Linked DNA regions of Homo sapiens: region 1 is linked to region 2. The links come from fine-mapping of genetic effects on gene expression. A gene starts in region 2. The other region holds a variant in brackets. All regions are shown on one strand. Distances are between the middles of the regions. Region 1 overlaps BST1 (bone marrow stromal cell antigen 1). Region 2 holds the start of BST1 (bone marrow stromal cell antigen 1).

Region 1 (9,630 bases), 35 kb before region 2:
TCTGAACATTGCCACATTGAGGATCAAATCTCAGCATGAAGTTTGGAGGGACAAACATTCAAACCATAGCAAACTTAATCTGGCTTAAATAATAAAGAGGATTCCTTGATGAGCAAGAGAAGAGACCACCTTCTTCTCCATCTCAAACCCTGAAAAACTGCTTCTGGGCTTGTCACAGCTTTGGCAGCAGAGCTGAGCATGTTAAAATAAAATGGAGTTTTATTTGTTTGTACTGTATGTTGGTGAAGGAGGCAGCAGCAACAGAGACCGGGGCGTTATGCACCAACCATATTATGCATCTGGAGATTCCCAGAGCAGCAACTGGGACAGGGACTACTGAATCCCTCAGACTTTAGGCCATAAGCCAATGAACATTTACTGTAAAAGGTGAGATAATACTTTTCGCTTTGCGGGCCATGCAACCTCTGTTGCCACTGCTCAACTCTGCAATAGCTCAGAAGCGGAATAGATAAGCACAAACTAATGAGCATGGCTGAGTTCCAGTAAAACTTTATACACTAAAATTTGAGCTTCATGTAGTTTTCAGACGCCATGAAATAATGTTCTTCTTTTGATTTTTTTCAACCATTTAAAAATGGAAAACCCACGTGTGTCTTTGGGGTTGTACAAAAGCCAGAATGGGCCCCTGCTATGGGCCATTGACACATGCTCTCAATAAGGCTGTGAATTAGAGGTTTCCCTGCACACAATGTTGTAAGCCCCTTGGAGGTTTGGAGATTCCAGCATCTATGACTGATTTTTCATGAAGGTTATTGAGGATGTGAACAGAATGTTTCAGTACTTTCCCCATCCATCTGCCTCAGCTTTCCTCTTCCTACCCTTCCTCCCTTATCAGGAAGCACTTCTATAATAATAGGATTGCTAGGAGCACAGAATTCTCGGGCCATGTTTTACTCCTGGACAAGGTTACTCTACTCCAAGTATGGTGTCCTCCCTGGCCTGTCCACTCTAGCTGTAGACAGGGATGGCCCCTAGAGGGAAGCCTGCCAATCCAGCTGTTACATAATGACAGCTGATCTCCAATCTGTGATTCTACTTGTCTGTAGCAGCCCCGTTTGACAACTTTGTTGGAGGAGGAGTGAGTAACGGCCAAATTCAATCTTTTGTCGCTAGATATAATACCAAAAAAACTGTCACTGCTCTTCCCAAGACTCCTAATCAATATCATCAGTAAATATTGGCTGAGTAAATATATGCAACCTCTGTCACAACTACTCAACTCTGCGGTTCATGACGGATAATGAACCCTGTGGACCCCTCACGAACCACGGAGTTGAGTAGTTGCGACAGAGGTTGCATGGCCAGCAAAGCTAAAAGTATTACTTCACCTTTTACAGAAAATGTTCATTGGCCTATGGCCTAAAATCTGAGGGATTCAGTAGTCCCCGTCCCAGTTGCTGCACTGGGAATCTCCAGACGGATAGTTTGGCTTGTAAATAATGCTCCAGCCTCTGTTGCTGCTCCTTCTTCACCAACATATAAGAAATAAAATTACATTTTATTTTAATATCCTCAGCTCTGCTGTCAAATATTTGTTATAATTTAACAAATTAATAAATTTGTTAAATAAGGTGCAAATGCTGAAGACAAACTCAGTAGTTGAGAACATAAACCTTTGTATAGATTAGTCTCCCTACCTGAAAATATTTCCAATCCACCCCCTCACACCTTCACCTCTCATCTGGCTAATAGCTCTCGTTTTTTCAGGTTCAACTTAAGGAAGACTTTCTCTGGAAAGCCTCCTCTCCCGATACTAGACTATGTTAGGTTTCCCCCAGTGCACAATCCCAAAGGACTCTGTTTCATCTTCATCCCACAAATGAAAGTAGATAATAACTACTAATTTAGGCCCGACATGGTGGCTCATGCCTATAATCCTAGCACTTTGGGAACCCAAGGCGGGCAGATCACTGTGGTTAGAAGTTTGAGACCAGCCTGGTCAACATGGCAAAACCCCGTCTCTAGCAAAAAGAATACAAAAAATTAGCCAGGCATAGTGGCGTGTGCCTGTAGTCCCAGCTGCTAGGGAGGCCGAGGCATGAGAATCACTTGAACCTGGGAGGCAGACGTTGCAGTGAGACGAGACGGTGCCACTGCACTCCAGCCTCGGTGACAGAACGAGATTCAGTCCCCCCTGCCCCCAACTAATTTAGTTATCAGCCAGTGAGGATCAGGAGATACACTCTCTCCCTGTCTCTCTCTATCCTTATCTCTCTCTCTCTCCCTTCTTCCCTCTCTTTCTCTGTCTCTCTCTGTTTCTCTGTCTGTCTGTCTCTCTCTCTGTCAATGTCTCCCTCTCCTTTTCTCTCTCTCACCGACTTCCCTCCCTCCCTTTCTCCTTCCCCCTCCTACCACCAAATTTTATTACTAGCAGCAATGGTGAACAATGACTTCACTCTGATTATATTTCTGTACACATCTTTTTACCCTACAAAATTTAATCGAGTTTAATGTGTTCCCCTGAGAGCTTGTCACTGTATGTTAACTATTTTAAAATTTTACAAGCACCATCTTAGAGTTACTGTGTCACATGTCCTATAGCAAAGTCATGAAGGTGCAGCTGGCACAAGTCAAATGAAAACCCTTCTACTTTTGTGCAGGGGAGAAATACACACACACACACACACACACACACACACACACACACACGGTTTGGCTTCTTAACATGCATTTTTCTCAAATAAGTAAGTCATTTCAGTGAAGAGTTTGGGTAATTCTGACAGCTACCCTTTAATAGCTACATGATAAAAGAAGTTCCAAAGAACCAAATCACGTAACAAAGAATACATGTGCTTTAGAGAACCTGCTGCATTCTACATCTTTTAGGGGGAAAAACAAAACTATATTCCTAAAATTCTAAGCGGAGTGATTTAATACATATACGTTTCATATTGAAACATGTTTTAAAGAGACTACCAAGAAAACACAAATACATAAGACTTCAAGTAATGAGTAATTATGGTGAAATTAGCATAGTTCAGATTTTCCAACCTGCTTCATTGGTTATGCATGTGGGTGTTTGAAACCCTTGCCAGGTCTTTAAAAACAAGCTCCCAGTCTCAGCAATAGCTGTGCCCTGTTCTCCAGCATGGGCTTTCAATTTGCCCTTCTCTTTGGTGCCAAAAGTCTCCTGAGAAGAGTAAGGCTGAGTTCTGGGTTTCAAATGCCTGTGAATTAAGTTCTAGCAACTGCAGAGTCTCCAATGATGATTCATTGTCCTGAGTTCCACTTTCTCACCCTGGGAAACTTCAGAAAGACTGAAATGGAAATGAGCATTAGGAGCTAGGTCCGCTTGCCTGGGCTGTCTCTCAGGTTAGTGGAACTGGGATTACTTCTCAATCAGCCATGTTCATTTGGCACCTTTGGCAAACCTCAATTTTCACAGCAGGAGAAATAAAAAAAGCTAGTGTTCACTTGGCACATGCCTGCTTCTAGTCTTTACTTTGGAAATTTTCATTGTTGTGTTAGCTTACCAGGGTGGCCATAACGAACTATGAATTTGAGGGAACACAGTTCCGTCTGTAACAATCGTGTGGAAGCTGAACTTCAAACAGGTAAGCTATCAGCTGGCTAACGTGTGGTCATTCCCACTTCCCATCAAGGTTTTTTATTTTTATTTTTATTTTTTTATCAAACTCTCTTGCCTTCCAACATATATTTTTAAATCAAACAATATTTAGGAATGTTTTTAGGATCTTTTTCTCCTTTTATACTGACCAACATCATAGACTCCTCACCCTGTTTAACATCTTTGTATTCTCCGGTCTTTGTGAATGTCCCTCTGCTACCTTACTAGACACACCAGACTGACCGACTCTCTTATCAAAGAATGACTTATAGACGTCATTATTCTTTTTCCCAAGTGTCTGAAATTCCTTTTCAAATTAGGCTTTCATTTTTTTGAATAGGCTTTAATGTTTAGAGCAGTTTTAGGTTCACAGCAAATTTGAGCAGAAAGTACAGAGCTTCCCACATACGCTCTGTCCCCACACATACATAGCCTCCCCCACTGGCAGCATCCCCACCAGAGTGGTGGAGTGGTGCATTTGTCACAACTAATGAACCGACATTGAAACATCATGGTCACCCAGCCTCTGTAGTTTACCTGAGGGTTCACCCTTGGTGTTGTACCTTCTGTAGGTTTGGACACATATATAATCACCTGTATCCACAATTCTAGTATCATGCAGAGTATTTTCACCACCCTAAATATTTGGGAGTCCATTTTATCCTGTTTCCTCTGAAGCTTGTGGAGAGCATTCATGTGGACGGAGCTGGACTAGGCAGGCATGCAATTGACTCAACTCTTGCCAGAGCCTCTGGAGATTTCGGCTTCCTTGCTGTGGGAGTGGAAGGCATTTACATCTTTGGACTCTCTGACAGTCAGTATCTTCCCCATCATGGTTCCCACAGTTTCCTGTTCAGGTTCAGAAAGTACCTTGTTACCAAGTCTATCGTGCTAGAGGGAATACAGCCAAGTGTAAGGTACCTGGTACCTACGACAGGAGAGGAAAGAGAACTCAGTTCTTCATGTGCCCACCCAGTCCTTGTGCTCAGGGGTCTTCCATGTGCATTTCTCTTTTGGTCAAATGCTTAGCATTGTTCATTCACTTGGTAGAAGAGCATTAAGTACCCATTAAGTGTGCCAGGCATGGAGCTGGTGCTGGGACCTGTTTGTTGAAGACACACGAGGCTGGTTTTCTTAGCTGCTTTTGCCAGGGCTCCCTGCTGCCCCCTTGCTGCCCAGACCATGGAGGAACCGAGGCCAAGAGAGGTGACCTTGGCCAAGTAAGAAAAGCTTTCTATGTCTATGTTTTCTCATCTGTAAAATAGGATAATAAGAGAATTGATCCTATGGGGTCGAGTGAGGATTGAAAGGGGCCATTTATGAAAATACTTCACACAGTGCCCAGTGCACAGTAACTTCTGATCTGCAGAGAGTGCTGTATTGCAGATGGTGTTTAGACAGCTATCAAACAACTCTAGTAGTAGTAACAATAACACTAGCAAATAACACTTATACAGGGCTGA[T/C]CTACTATACTCCTGGCACTGTTCTGGGTTCTTTATGCACATTCGCTCATTGAATTATGAGTACTTATAATCCCTACTTACACACACGGTGATGCAGCTCAGGTAAGGTAAGTGAGTTGCCCAAGGCTACACAGCGAGCAAGTGCTGAAGGTAGGATGTGGGCCAACCTGTTAGGTGCCAGAGTCCATGCTCTTGGCCACAATGTTAGGCTGCCTCCCCATTTCCTTTGTCTTGATTCCCCAAACCCAAGGTTCTCACCCAATCTGATCAAATGCTGACTAGGTCATGGCTGGTCAGGGTAAAGCATTATGACAGACACAAAGACAAAGAGGTAAAGTTGCTGTCCTCAAGAGAGAGAGACATAAAAACAAATGGATCTGGAACTAAGTAAGGCTTCGAGGAGGAGGTGAGCAAAGGTACCAGATCCAAAGGCTTATGTTGAGAATACGGAACTGAGAGAAGGTTCATGGAGAGTGCAGTGGGGTCTCCTGGGACACAGACCTAGTAAGGCAGTTTAGGGGCAAATGGAAAGATCTTGAATCGCAGATTTTTTTTTTTTTTTGGAGACAGAGTCTCACTCTATCACCCAGGCTGGAGTGCAGTGGAGCAATCTAGGCTCACTGCAACCTCTGTGTCCTTGGTTCAAGCAGTTCTCCTGCCTCAACCTTCAGAGTACCTGGGATTACAGGCACGTGCCACCACGCCCAGCTAATTTTTGTATTTTTAGTACATACAGGGTTTCACCATGTTGTCCAGGGCTCCTGACCTCAAGTGATCTGCCCACCTTGGCCTCACAAAGTGCTGGAATTATAGGCAGGAGCCACTGCGCCCGGCTTCTTGAAGAGCAGATTTTAAAATTTGAAATTTGTCTTGCCAAGGGTAGGAAACCATTGCTGATTTTGAGCAAGAGGACGATGCACTCAGGACCCTAGCGTAGGACATTGCTCTGGCAGCATTGTGGAAGTTAGGCTGAAGGAGAAACCAAGCAGAAGCAGAGAGATCAGTCAGGAGGCAATGATATGTTTGAAACCCATGATTTACCTTGTACAAAGGCTAGAACCGGCGGTTGTATGGTTCTGCTCTGGGTCGCACTCCTAATGTCCCACATAGCCTCTTGGGTCTATAAATATAAATATGTGCATAAAAACACATAGAAAAATGTCTGCTACTCTGCGTGCAGTATGACAGATGAGATTTGCCTTCTTCCTAATTTTTCTGTATTGTGTAGATTTTTTTCAAGTAAAGAGCCATTATTACTCTTATATTCGGGAAAAAAGTGAAGTTATGTTTAGTTTTTAAAAATAAAGCCTTATTTTTCTTATGGAACTCAAAATGGCATTTCTCTAATTGAGTCGCAGGTCACTGTGCTGTGAGTGGCTAAGTCGCCTGGTAACCCAGGCAACATGAAGGCAGCAGACACTGTGTTTTCCAAGCTTGGTCTAAGAGACGCCCCTTGGCTGGGGCTCCCATGGGATTGGCCTAAGGAGCCAGACGGTCCTGAGACAAACCATGAATTATGAATTGGAAGTTGGTTGGTTGGGTCCTTTTCTCTTTCTCTAAGTACCCAAAAGTCTTATGCTGCTTGTCATCTTCCCTCACGGCTCCCCTCACACACCCTAGCAATATCACACACTTCAAGTGTTTTATGAAAGTATGCCATAAATACAGAAAAGCATGCCACACCTTGTTATTAAGCTTCCCTTGTACCCTCCCTGGCCTCCTCCAACAAAAGAAAGCTAAAGAATCCCCCACCCTCTGTTTTCCTCTATTAAACTTAGTTCATTCACACGTGGAAGGTCTACTTCATCCAAGCAGGGCTAGGCTAGGGCTGCAAAGATGAGTGAGTCTGCAAAGAAGCCACAGTCCCAGGGTGAAGTTAGGCAAGGACCCAAACAATGCTGACACCATGAAGATGGGCCCTGTTAGGGAATTCTTTGCTTTTTTGCAGGGAGAGAGGTCAACAGAAGGATCCAGGGAGGAGGTGATGCTTAAGGTATGTCTTAGAGTCTGCCAGATGGGAGACAGGGCAGGAAGGAAAATCAACACAGAGAGACCAACATGTTCAAAGACCCTGAGGAGGGAGAGAGTAGAGAGCACGTCTGGGTAGAGCACCAAGCAACTTGGTTAGAGGAGCCCAGCTGAGCACACCTTCTGTAAGAAGCTAATACCGCTTTTACAATACACACCAGTGTCTACACCAAATGAACATTCTACCATGCCAGGTTTTCATGGATTTCATTCCTCTGCAGTCTCACTTCCCAAAGTCTCTTTCCTTAACCCTTCTGAGCGTGGCCTGGTTCCCGCTCCTGCCTGCTCCCTGTGGCAGTGTCCGACTGAAACCAGCCCAGCTGTCCCAGAGAAGTGATGTCTACTGTTTTTTGGATAAACATGAAAATTGACCCTCTCATCTAAGATTGAAACTTACATTTGTCTTATCTGAATTCCTTCTTCAGGAAACTGACCCTTAGGCAACCAGTTAGTATCAAGGAACCGAAACTCACCAGACCACCACATCCACACAATTAGATGCCAGACCCTTCATCCATCATGACTCCTGTTTAGCAGCTTCTCTTCCTTACCCCTCCCCCATTCCTGTTTTCTCACATATAGTTACATTTCCTTCCTGCTATGTAAACCCCTAAGTTTAGTCGACTGGTGGAGGAGACAATTTTGAGAATGATTTCCCGTATATATATTATATTTTAATATATTAAATTTGTATCATACTTTAGACATTTTCATCATATAATTAAGTTTTATATTTTATCTCTTACACATTTTCCTATGTGATTAAATGTTCTTTGAAAACATTTCTTTTTGGTTTACATAAAATAAAATTTACTCTTTTTCATGTACAGGGCCATGAGTGTTGACGAACACTTGGATTCATGCAATCACCACCACAATCAAGACACAGAGCAGCTCCATCGCTCCCAAAATTTTTCTCAGTGTCACTTTGCAGTCAGCGCCTCCTTCTAGTCCTGATCATTCTCAACCCCCACAATCACTGGTCTGCTCTCCGCTACTATAGTTCTGCCTTCTCGAGGATGTCATATAAATAGAATCATACAGTTGGTGGCCTTTTGGTGCGGCAGCTCTCACATTTGGGTTTCATCCATATTGCTGCATATATCAAGGTAGTTACCTTTATTGCTGAGTAGTATTCCATGGTGTAGATTTACCAGTTAGTTTATTCCTTCACCATCTGAAGGACATGTGAATTGGTAAACATGGCTTTTACTTGTTGAATGATACTCCATTCTACAAATATTCTAAAACCCATGTAAATAGTTCTGATATGGTTTGGCTCTGTATCCCCACCTAAATTTCATATTGAATTGTGATCCCCAGTGTTGAAGGTGGGGTCTGGTGGGAGGTGATTGGATCACGGAGGTGGTTTCGGATGGTTTAGCACCATCACCTAGTGCTGTCTCATGACAGAGTTCTCACGAGATCTGGTGGTTTGAAAGCATGTAGCACCTCCCCCTTCACTCCCTTCCTCCTTCTCTGGCCATGTAAGACATGACTGCTTCCCTTTTGCCTTCCATGATGATCGTAAGTTTCCTGAGGCCTCCCCAGCCATGCTTCCTGTAAGCCTGTGGAACAGAGAGGTGAAGCCAGCTGGACTTCCTAGGTCGAGAGGGGACTTGGAGAGCTTTTCTGTCTAGCTAAAGGATTGTAAATGCACCGATCAGCACTCTGTGTCTAGCTAAAGGATTGTAAATGCACCAGTCAGCACTCTGTAAAAACACACCAGTCAGCACTCTGTGTCCAGCTAAAGGATTGTAAACGCACCAATCAGCACTCTGTGTCTAGCTAAAGGATTGTAAATGCACCAGTCAGCACTCTGTAAAAACACACCAGTCAGCACTCTGTGTCCGGCTAAAGGATAGTAAACACACCAATCAGCACTCTGTGTCTAGCTAAAGGATTGTAAATGCATCAATCAGCACTCTGTAAAATGGACCAATCAGCGCTCTGTAAAATGGACCAATCAGCAGGATGTGGGTGGGACCAAATAAGGGAATAAAAGCTGGCCACCGAGCCAGCAGTGGCAACCAGCTTGGGTCCCCTTCCACATTGTGGAAGCTTTGTTTTTTCGCTCTTCACAATAAATCTTGCTGCTGCTCACTCTTTGGGTCCGCACTACCTTTAATAGCTGTAACACTTGCCGCGAAGGTCCGCAGCTTCATTCTTGAAGTCAGCGAGACCACGAACCCACCAGAAGGAAGAAACTCCAGACACATCTGAAGGAACAAACTCTGAACACACCATCTTTAAGAGCTGTAACACTCACTGCAAAAGTCCATGGCTTCATTCTTGAAGTCAGCAAGACCAAAAACCCAGAGGTTGTCACAATTTTGTCACAATTCTGGACACAGAACTGTGAGTCAATTAAACCTCTTTTTTATTTTTATTTTTGTAAATTACCCAGTCTCGGGCAGTTCTTTATAGCAATGCAAGAACAAACTAATACAAGTTCCAAACAGTTTCAGTAAATATGTAAATATTACTGGATATTTTGGGTTTTTCCCTCATTATAAGTAACTATTATGGCTGGATGTGGTGGCTCACGCC
Region 2 (9,630 bases):
GAAAATGCAGAGCATGAGCCCTTTCTCTTCTTCCAGAGCTGTGGCCAGGATAATAAGCAGTCACAAAAAGCACTTCCTAAAGTGTCAAGTGCCTCAAAAACACATTGCTTTTATATTATACTTTATAGTTTCCACCATAGTGTTTTTATATAACAATAACACAAATCCCCCAGTCACTATTTCATCTGACCCTCAGTAGTCCAATCAGTTTATATTTAGACTAGAAGGTCCCCAAGGGTGAGGGCTGTTTTTCACTGTTACATCCTTAACCCTTAGCACCAATGACTGGCAAACAAATAGCCCCGGAAGTATTTACTGAGTTCATCAACTAGCACCGAATCTATGAAACAGAAGGTTAAAAAGTCAGCTTCCCCACTTTTAGTGACAGGAGGGCAGCAAGGTTCAAAAGACAGCATATACTCAAAAATCATGTTTTCAGTCTATTCTATCTTTGAACCTCACAGTTCCATTTACTTGCCTTTACAAATAACACACAATGGAAAAAATCAGGTTAACAATGTTTATGTCACAGAAACAAAAATGGTGTCTAGCATTCCTTAAACTTGAGGTATTGTTTTAAGCAAGGGTTTTATGGAAATTTTCTCATTATTTTCATTTTATTAGACCTGAGAGTGTATACAGAATATAGATATGTGGTTTTCTTAAATAAACTGGTACTAAATAAATATAATCTTAAGACCCGTTAAATGGAGAGACTGGTCTCCCGGGAGGATACTGAGATTGAGAGTTTTCTGAATTACTCAAGGTTCAGGCCATTGGGCCAGTTAGGATGAAGGTTATTTAGAACTGGCCAGATGTGGAGGCCCAGTGTGACAGGTATGGCCATGTCCTGATGTCCTCATGTTGATTCTCACACTAACTTGCTAACTTAGGAAATTTTCTTCTGCCCACAACCAGCGGGAGATCTACAATCACTATTGGAAACTGATATGATTTGGATTTGTGTCTCTTGTAAAATTGTAATCCCCTATGTTGGAGGTGGGGCCTGGTGTGAGGTGATTGGATTATGGGGGTGGATTTCCCCCTTTGCTGCTGTTCTCCTGAGGGAGTTCTCAGAAGATCCAGTTGTTTACAAGCCTGTGGCACCTCCCTCTGCCCTTGGTCCTGCTCGTGCCATGTAAGACACCTGCTCCCACTTTGCCTTCTGCTGAAGTAAAAGCTCCCAGAGGCCTCCCAGAAGTAGATGTTGCCATTCTTCCTGTACAGCCTGTGGAACTGTGAACCAGTTAAACCTCTTTTCTTTGTAAATTACCCAGTCTCAGGCATTTCTTTATAGCAATGTGACAACGGACTAATACAGAAACAAAGCTAGCTTCCCACAGAGAGCTCAGCACACACATTATGTGTGCTGCCTGATGTTTCTGTGACATTGCAGGATGCAGGGGACAGCTAATGTCAACCTGGCCCATGCACCATCCATTTCTGTAGAGACAGAGAACACAGTTTTACCCAAGATGGTTGTGGTGTTACCTTATCTCTGGGAATAGAGTGCCTGGACAAGTTAATAAAAAGGTCATAGTCTGAGGGCAGCACGGAGCAGGGATCCTTGTCCAGCGCCACTTTAAAGGCTTCCCAGATGGCTGTGCAGTTCTTGTTCCTGTGCAAAAGTACAAGTTGGGAAGAACACACACATGCACATCATAATGTGTTGTGAAGTATGCCCATTTGTCTAAGAGCTTTACAAGAGATTTTTCATATAGTAACTGCAGAAGTAGGCTTACAAAAAAGACAACGAATTGTCATGGCTTAGGTGACAGATTCAGAAATCTGACACTGGAATTGTCTCTCTGAAGGCACTGCACAGATTTCTCAGAGCTAAGGAATACAGCCTTGCCCCAGGCTCACGGAGACAAGCAGAAATGGCACCGAGCAGGAGGTGACAAATTCAGTCAACTATACAGCAGGTGCCTCTTCATTTAGACCTAACGGTGGGGCCAGTCTCATAGTCCAGTTCCAGTGTGGAGCTCGGGGACCAGGTGAGGCCAGGCCAGCCAGCAGGATGTGTAGTGTTAGGAGGGAGGCCCAATGCTGCAAAAGGCTTCCACCTCTGGCAAAGCAGGTGCACCCTCCAGTGCAAGCCCCTCTTGAGGTCCATGCTAGTTTTCAAAAAATATTTCCCATAGCATTTGTAACTTTGTTTCTCATACTGGGTGGTGTGTAACACAGGTGGTTCTCTGCTGTTTCTTATTTGCCTGAAATGTGCGACAATAAAAATGATCAGCACAAGAAAGACATCACAAACATAAGAAAAGGGGGGCCACAGAAGGAACAAAAATCAGTAAGAAATGCAGCACTGGCAAGAAAGACCCAAACTTCAGAAATCCTCCAGATTTAGGGGATCTGAAATTTGAATTCTGGAAGGACTGGACTCAAGGAATTCCAACCTGAGATCACATTCTGGGTTCTGAGTATTCAGACTAAACATCTGCTGGGTGGCAATGGGCTGTTACCCAGTTCACCTCTACCCCACCCTCACTTCTAGAGGGATACCTCTCCACCCTCCTTCACACTCACACACACCTCTCACCTCTAGACCACACACACATCCCTCACCTCTAGACCACACACACATCCCTCACCTATAGACCACACACACACACCTGTCACCTCTAGACTACACACACACACCCCTCACCTCTAGAACAAACACACACACATCTCACCTCTAGAACACACACACAACTCACCTCTAGAACACACACACACACACATCCCTTACCTCTAGAACACACACACCTCTCACTTCTAGAACACACACACCCATCATCTCTAGAACACACACATCTCACCTCTAGAACACACACCCCTCAACTCCAGAACACACACACACCCCTCACCTCTAGAACACACATACACACCTCATCTCTAGAACACACACTCTCCTCAGCTCTAGAATACACATACACCCCCTCACCTCTAGAACACACACACCCCTCACCTCTAGACCACACACACATCCCTCACCTCTAGACCACACACACATCCCTCACCTATAGACCACACACACACACCTGTCACCTCTAGACTACACACACACACCCCTCACCTCTAGAACACAGATACACACACACCTCTAGAACACATGCACGCACCCCTCACCTCTAGAACACACACACACACATCTCACCTCCAGAACACACACACCCCTCACTTCTAGAACACACACACCCCTCACCTCTAGAATACACACACCCCTCACCTCTAGAGCGCACGCACACACACCCCCTTCACCTCTAGAACACACATGCACACACCCCTCACCTCTAGAACACACATACAGACACCTCACCTCTGGAACACACACACCCCTTACCTCTAGAACACACACACACATCTCACCTTTAGAACACACACACACACCCCTCACCTCTAGAGCACACACACACACACACACCCCCACCTCTAGAGCACACACACACACATCCACCTCTAGAGCACACACACACCTCCCACCTCTAGAGCGCGCGCACACACACACCCCCCTCACCTCTAGAACACACGCACACACCCCTCACCTCTACAGTGTGTGTGTGCGCGCACACACACACACTCATCTCTAGACCCCGCACAGCGCACCCCTCACCTGCAGACACACTTCACAGCCCCCTCCTCACTCGCCCCCATCGTTCAGGACCATCGCTGTCTCCACACTCACCTCTCCCCTCAAGGCCTCTCTCATTGCCCCCTCACCCCGAACTTTAGCGCCAGTTTTCCCCTCCCCAGGCCCTCCCCACCGTTGCCTCTTTCCGGCTCCCCTTCCACCCGGCCGACTGCCTCACCGCTGCTCGGGACTCAGCAGTGCGCGGTACTCGGCGCAGCGGCCCAGGAAGATGTCCCGCAAGTGTGCGCTGGTGCCCTCCCCGCGCCACCGCGCGCGCGCCCCGCCCGCCGCCAGCAGCAACAGTAGAAGCAGAAGCTGCAGCAGCAGCTGGAGCAGCCGCGATGCCGCGCACCCCTGGGCCGCCATCGGGGAACTTTGGTCCCTCCAGTCCCGTGCTTCCTCCACTCCCCTTCTCTCCTTCTACCAAGGCGGTTCCGCAAACTGATGCAGGGCGGGACTCTCGCTCGGATATCTCGCTGTTTGCCGTTTCCCGTTCCAGACAATTTCAAGACTGAGCGTGGGGCGGGGCGCGGCGGCTCATGCCTGTAATCCCAGCACTTTGAGAGGCCTAGACGGGCGGATCGCTTGAGTATAGGAGTTCGAGACAAACCTGAGTAACATACAGGTGAGAAACCTCCTCTCTACAAAAAAATACAAAACTTAGCTGGTCCTGGTGGTGCGCATCTGTAGTCTCAGCTACCTGCGAGGTGAGATGTGAGGAGGCTTGACCCCAGGGGATCGAGGCTGCAGCGAGCAGTGATTGCACCACTGCACTCCAGCCCTGGGCGACAGAGTGAGACTCTGTCTAAAAAAAAAATTAATAAATAAATAAAATTAAAAAAGAGTGAGCTTGGAACATCACCCAGGACAGGACCAGTGCACTGTGGCCCAGGCTAATCTTGACCGCTGTCCACGGGGAGGGAGCCCCAAAGAAGCCGCAAGGTTGAAGGAGAGGTGAGGAGAGGTCAGTCATCATCAGAAGAAATACTTTTCTGGCTCCAAAGGACGACAACTTTGACAGATGCCCTCTTTCACACCAACCAATAAGTGGTGTTTGTTTGTTTTCAGGAAATAATAACCACAACAACGTGCCAAGCACTTTGCAAGTATAATATTAATTACTTTCCGCAACACCCTTCCTAGCTAAGTTTGTAATTTCTCTCGCTTTAGCAATGGATAAACTCAGGGAAGTTAAGCATGTTCGGCCCTCCAGATTTGCGGATTCATCATCCAAATTCAGCTAACCACGGATGAGAAACATTTGAGGAAAAAAAGAATGCTTGCATCTGTACGGAACATGTACGGACTTTTTTTTCCTTGTCATCATTCCCTAAATAATCCAATGTAACAACTACTTATGTAACAATTACATAGTACTTGATATTACAAGGAATCTGGAGATGACGTGAATTATAGAAGAGGATGTGCAAATACTGTATACTACACCATTTAATATAAGGGCCTTGAGCATCTGTGGATTTTGGTATCCAGGAGGTTCCTGGAACCAATTCTCCATGGATACCTACCGCCGACTGTAACTTGTCAGAGGTCACAATATCCCTTCCTGATAGATGCAAAATCCTGGAGATGTTCAGTTTAAGAGAGCCAGGATTGGCCGGGCGCGGTGGCTCACACCTGTAATCCCAGCACTTTGGGAGGCCGAGGCGGGTGGATCACGAGGTCAAGAGATCGAGACCATCCTTGCTAACACGGTGAAACCCCGTCTCTACTAAAAATACAAAAGATTAGCCAGGCGCGGTGGCGGGCGCCTGTTGTCCCAGCTACTCGGGAGGCTGAGGCGGGAAAACGGCGTGAACCCAGGAGGCAGAGCTCGCAGTGAGCCGAGATCGGGCCACTGCACTCCAGTCTGGGCAACAGAGTGAGACTCCGTCTCAAAAAAAAAAAAAAAAAGAGCCAGTATTAATAGAATACCACGTGGAGGCCCAAGTCCTCAATTCTTACAATAATGACAGCAATGAACTTTGAGTGCCTGGCAAGCACTTGATAAACACAAGGGAGGACAGAACAGGTGTTCTCTACTGTTTTATTTGAATCTCTTTTTTTCTGTAACCAAAACCCGCATTCTCCTGTTCAGTTCCTCCTTAAGTTAAATCCACTTTCCAGAGGAAAGCATTTTTAATTCTTTCAAGTTTTGTTCCTGTGTTTACTTCCATATTTCTAAATAACATGTGTGAACCCGCAAATTTTGAGACAGGTCTCAATTAATTTAGAAAGTTTATTTTAGCAAGGTTGAGGACACGTGTCCATGACACAACCTCAGGAAGTCCTGACGACATGTACCCAAGGTGGTCAGGGCACAGCTTGGTTTTATACATTTTAGGGAGACATGAGATATCAATCAATATATGTAAGAAGTACATTGGTTCTGTCCAGAGAGGCGGGGACAACTCGAAGCACGGAGGGGGCTTCCAGGTCTCAGGTAGGTGAGAGACAAATGGTTGCCTTCTTTTGAGTTTCTGATAAGCCTTTCCAAAGAAGGCCATCAGAATATGCATATATCTCAGTGAGCAGCTGAATGACTTTGAATAGAATGGGAGGCAAGTTTGCCCTGAGCAGTTCCCAGCCTGACTTTTCCCTTTAGTTTAGTAATTTTGGGGCATCCCTGGCATGGCTCGTCCCACCAAATCTAATGTGAAATTGTAATCCCCAACGTTGGAGGTGGGGCCTGGTGGGAGGTGATTTTATCATGGGTGTGGGTTTCTCAAGAATAGTCTAGCACCATCCCCTTGTTGCTATTCTCATGATAGTAAGTGAGATCTGGTTGTTTTAAACTGTGTAGCACTGGCAGGGCGCCGTGGCTCACACCTGTAATCACAGCAGTTTGGGAGGCTGGTGTGGGGGGTGTGTTGGGAATCACGGATCGAGACCATCCTGGCCAACATGGTGAAACCCCATCTATACTAAAAATACAAAAATTAGCTGGGCGTGGTGGCACGCACCTGTAGTCCCAGCTCTTCGGGAGGCTGAGGCAGAAGAATCGCTTGAACCTGGGAGGCGGAGGTTGCAGTGAGCTGAGATCTCACCACTGCACTCCAGCCTGGTGACAGAGTGAGACTCTGTCTCAAAAAAAAAAAAAAAAGAAGTGTGTAGCACCTCCTCCCTCTCTCTTGCTCCCTGCTGCCACCGTGTAAGACCCATTGCTCCCCCTTTGCCTTCCACCACATTTGGAAACTTCCTGAAGCCTCTCCAGATGCAGAAGCCACTATGCTTCCTACAGCCTGCAGAACTGTGAGCCAATTCAACCTCTTTTTCTTATAAATGAGCAGTTTCAGGTATCTATAGCAATGCAAGAACAGACTAATACAATACCTATATGCTATTTCTTGATGTTTCTGTTTGGGACATTATTCTGTTTGGGACATTATGACATTTTATTTGTTGTAAACCTCTTGTTTACCCTGGAGGTAATCATTATCTAGAAAGTAACTAGCTTGCTTTTGATATTACAGGCTCATAGGCAGAAGGCATTTGCCTTGTCTCAGATGAAACTTTGAACTGTGGACTTTTGGGCTAATGTTGAAGTTAAGACTTTGAGGGTCTGTTGAGAAGGCATGATTGGTTTTGAAATGTGAGGATGTGAGATTTGGAGGGGCCGGGGTGGAATGATATGGTTTGGCTGTGTCCCCACCCAAATCTCAACTTGAATTGTATCTCCCAGAATTCCCACGTGTTGTGGGAGAGAGCTAGGTTGGGGTGGGGGTGGGGAGGCAGGGTGGGAGTAATTGAATCATGGGGGCCGGTCTTTCCCATGCTATTCTGGTATTCTGGTGATAGTGAATAAGTCTCACAAGATCTGATGGGTTTATCAGGTGTTTCCACTTTTGCTTCTTCCTCATTTTTCTCTTGCCGCTGCCATGTAAGAAGTGCCTTTCACCTCATGCCATGATTCTGAGGCCTCCCCAGCCATGCAGAACTGTAAGTCCAATTAACCCTCTTTCTGTTCCCAGTTTCAGGTGTGTCTTTATGAGCAGCATGAAAACGAACTAATACAACTAGATCTCACATCCTCCTCTTTCTTGTTTTATGGAGCACATCTTCCAATAGCTTCTTGAGAAGATACACAGGGACTAAACTTTCTGAGATTTTTTGCATAAGAATTCAAAATGTCATTATTCTACCTTCACACTTAATTGAGAATTTGATTGGATGTCTGAGATTTTTGCATAAGAATTCAAAGTGTCATTATTCTAACCTCACACTTGATTGAGAATTTGGTTGGGTACATTTTTGCATTGGAAAGCATTTCCCTTCAAAATTTTGAAGACTGTGTTCCATTGTTTTCTGTGTTGCTGTTGAGAAATCTGAACCCATTTTCCTATTCCTGTTTATTTGACCTTTTTTGTTGTTGTTTGTTTTGTTTTTTATTCTTTGGCCTGTTTTTTTTCTATCTGGAAATTTTCAGAATTTCCTTCTATTCTTAGGAGTATGAAATTTCAGAGATGAAGTTGGGCAAAAGTAGTTGTTTTTCATTGTACTGGACAATCCATGAGCCCTTTTAACCTACAAACTCATGTCTTTAAATACTGAGATATTTTCTCAATTTTTTGGTAATTTCCCCTCCTCCAAATTCTGTTTTCTCTTTCTGAAATTCCTGTTACTCATATAGGAATGATTTCCTTGTTAGACTTCCTAGTCTTTAATTTTCTATATTTTCACCTTTTTTCTTTGTCTTCTTATACTTTCTTGAATATAAATTTATCATTATCTTCCAACTTCTCTGTTGCTTTTTTAAATTTATACTATATATATATATATATATATATATATATATATATACTTATATATACAGTTGTGTTCTACACGTTCAGGTCTTTTTGCTTTTTATAATCTTCTCTTGCTGTTTTGTGAATATTTCTGAGGCTTTTATTACAGATGTAGGTTTTTCATTTTTCTTTTAAATTTTCTTCTGCCAATGTCTGTTTCCTTTGAGTGCCTTATTTCCATTTTGGTGACTGGCTTTAATGTGAGAAGTTTCCCTCAAATAAACTGATGACCTTTGGCTGATTATTTTTACAAACACAGAAAAACATAAGGAACAGTATTAGTTCATTGTCGCACTGCAGATAAAGACATACCTGAGACTGGGTAATTTGGCAGAAGGCAACAGGCACGTCTTACATGGCAGTAGGCAAGAGACAGCTTGTGCAGGGGAACTCCTCTTTATAAAACCATCAGATCTTGTGAAACTTATTCACTATTATGAGAATGGGAAAGACCCACCCCCATGATTCAATTACCTCCCACCGAGTCCCTCATATGACATGAGGGAATTGTGGGAACTACAATTCAAGATGAGATTTGGTTGGGGACGCAGCCATACCATATCAGGCACTAATTAGAAGCAGGCTCAAGGCAAATGGTCAGAGTTTGTCAAAGGGTGGGCTGCCCTGTAGGATGAACATACTGCACTTTATCACTAAGAGATACCTGTCATTTTCTCTTGGACAGTCCGTTTTTCCAGAGAGTAATATTCCTTTTTTTTTTTTTTTTTTTTTTTTTGAGACAGAGTCTCGCTCTGTTGCCCAGGCTGGAGTGTAGTGGCGTGATCTCGGCTCACTGCAAGCCCTGCCTCCTGGATTCATGCCATTCTCCCGCCTCAGCCTCCCAAGTAGCTGGGACTACAGGCGCCCACCACCACACCTGGCTAATTTTTTTTGTATTTTTAGTAGAGACGGGGATTCACCATGTTAGCCAGGATGGTCTTGATCTCCCGATCTCGTGATCCACCCGCCTCAGCCTCCCAAAGTGCTGGGATTACAGGCGTGAGCCACTGTGCCTGGCCTAATATTCCTATTTTCTACCTGGAAGGATATATGCCTGGATGATAGCAATGTGGAGCTGAGTGGGGGAAGGTGGCTGGGAGAATCTCACTATTCAGTATAAAGATTTTCACTTATCCCTCCTCTCTCACCACATTTTTAGTAGAAGCTCTGGCCTCACTGATGCCTGGTACCCCACAACCTAGAATCTTTGGTCTACTCTTCAGG

The links.
Region 1: its variant is fine-mapped to the expression of BST1 in whole blood (INTERVAL, PIP above 0.99).

What each region holds. Positions count from the first base shown.
Region 1 is chr4:15,732,595-15,742,224 of GRCh38, reverse strand. BST1 (bone marrow stromal cell antigen 1) reads right to left here. Exons shown (of 9, transcript NM_004334.3): 9 at 9,438-9,630. Among named protein-coding and RNA genes, the nearest start is that of BST1, 34 kb to the right of the region's middle. The variant T/C (reference allele first, on the strand shown) is at 5,053.
Region 2 is chr4:15,697,503-15,707,132 of GRCh38, reverse strand. BST1 (bone marrow stromal cell antigen 1) reads right to left here and starts at 4,068. Exons shown (of 9, transcript NM_004334.3): 1 at 3,801-4,068; 2 at 1,492-1,618. The coding sequence starts at 3,988. RefSeq lists a silencer at 4,050-4,129.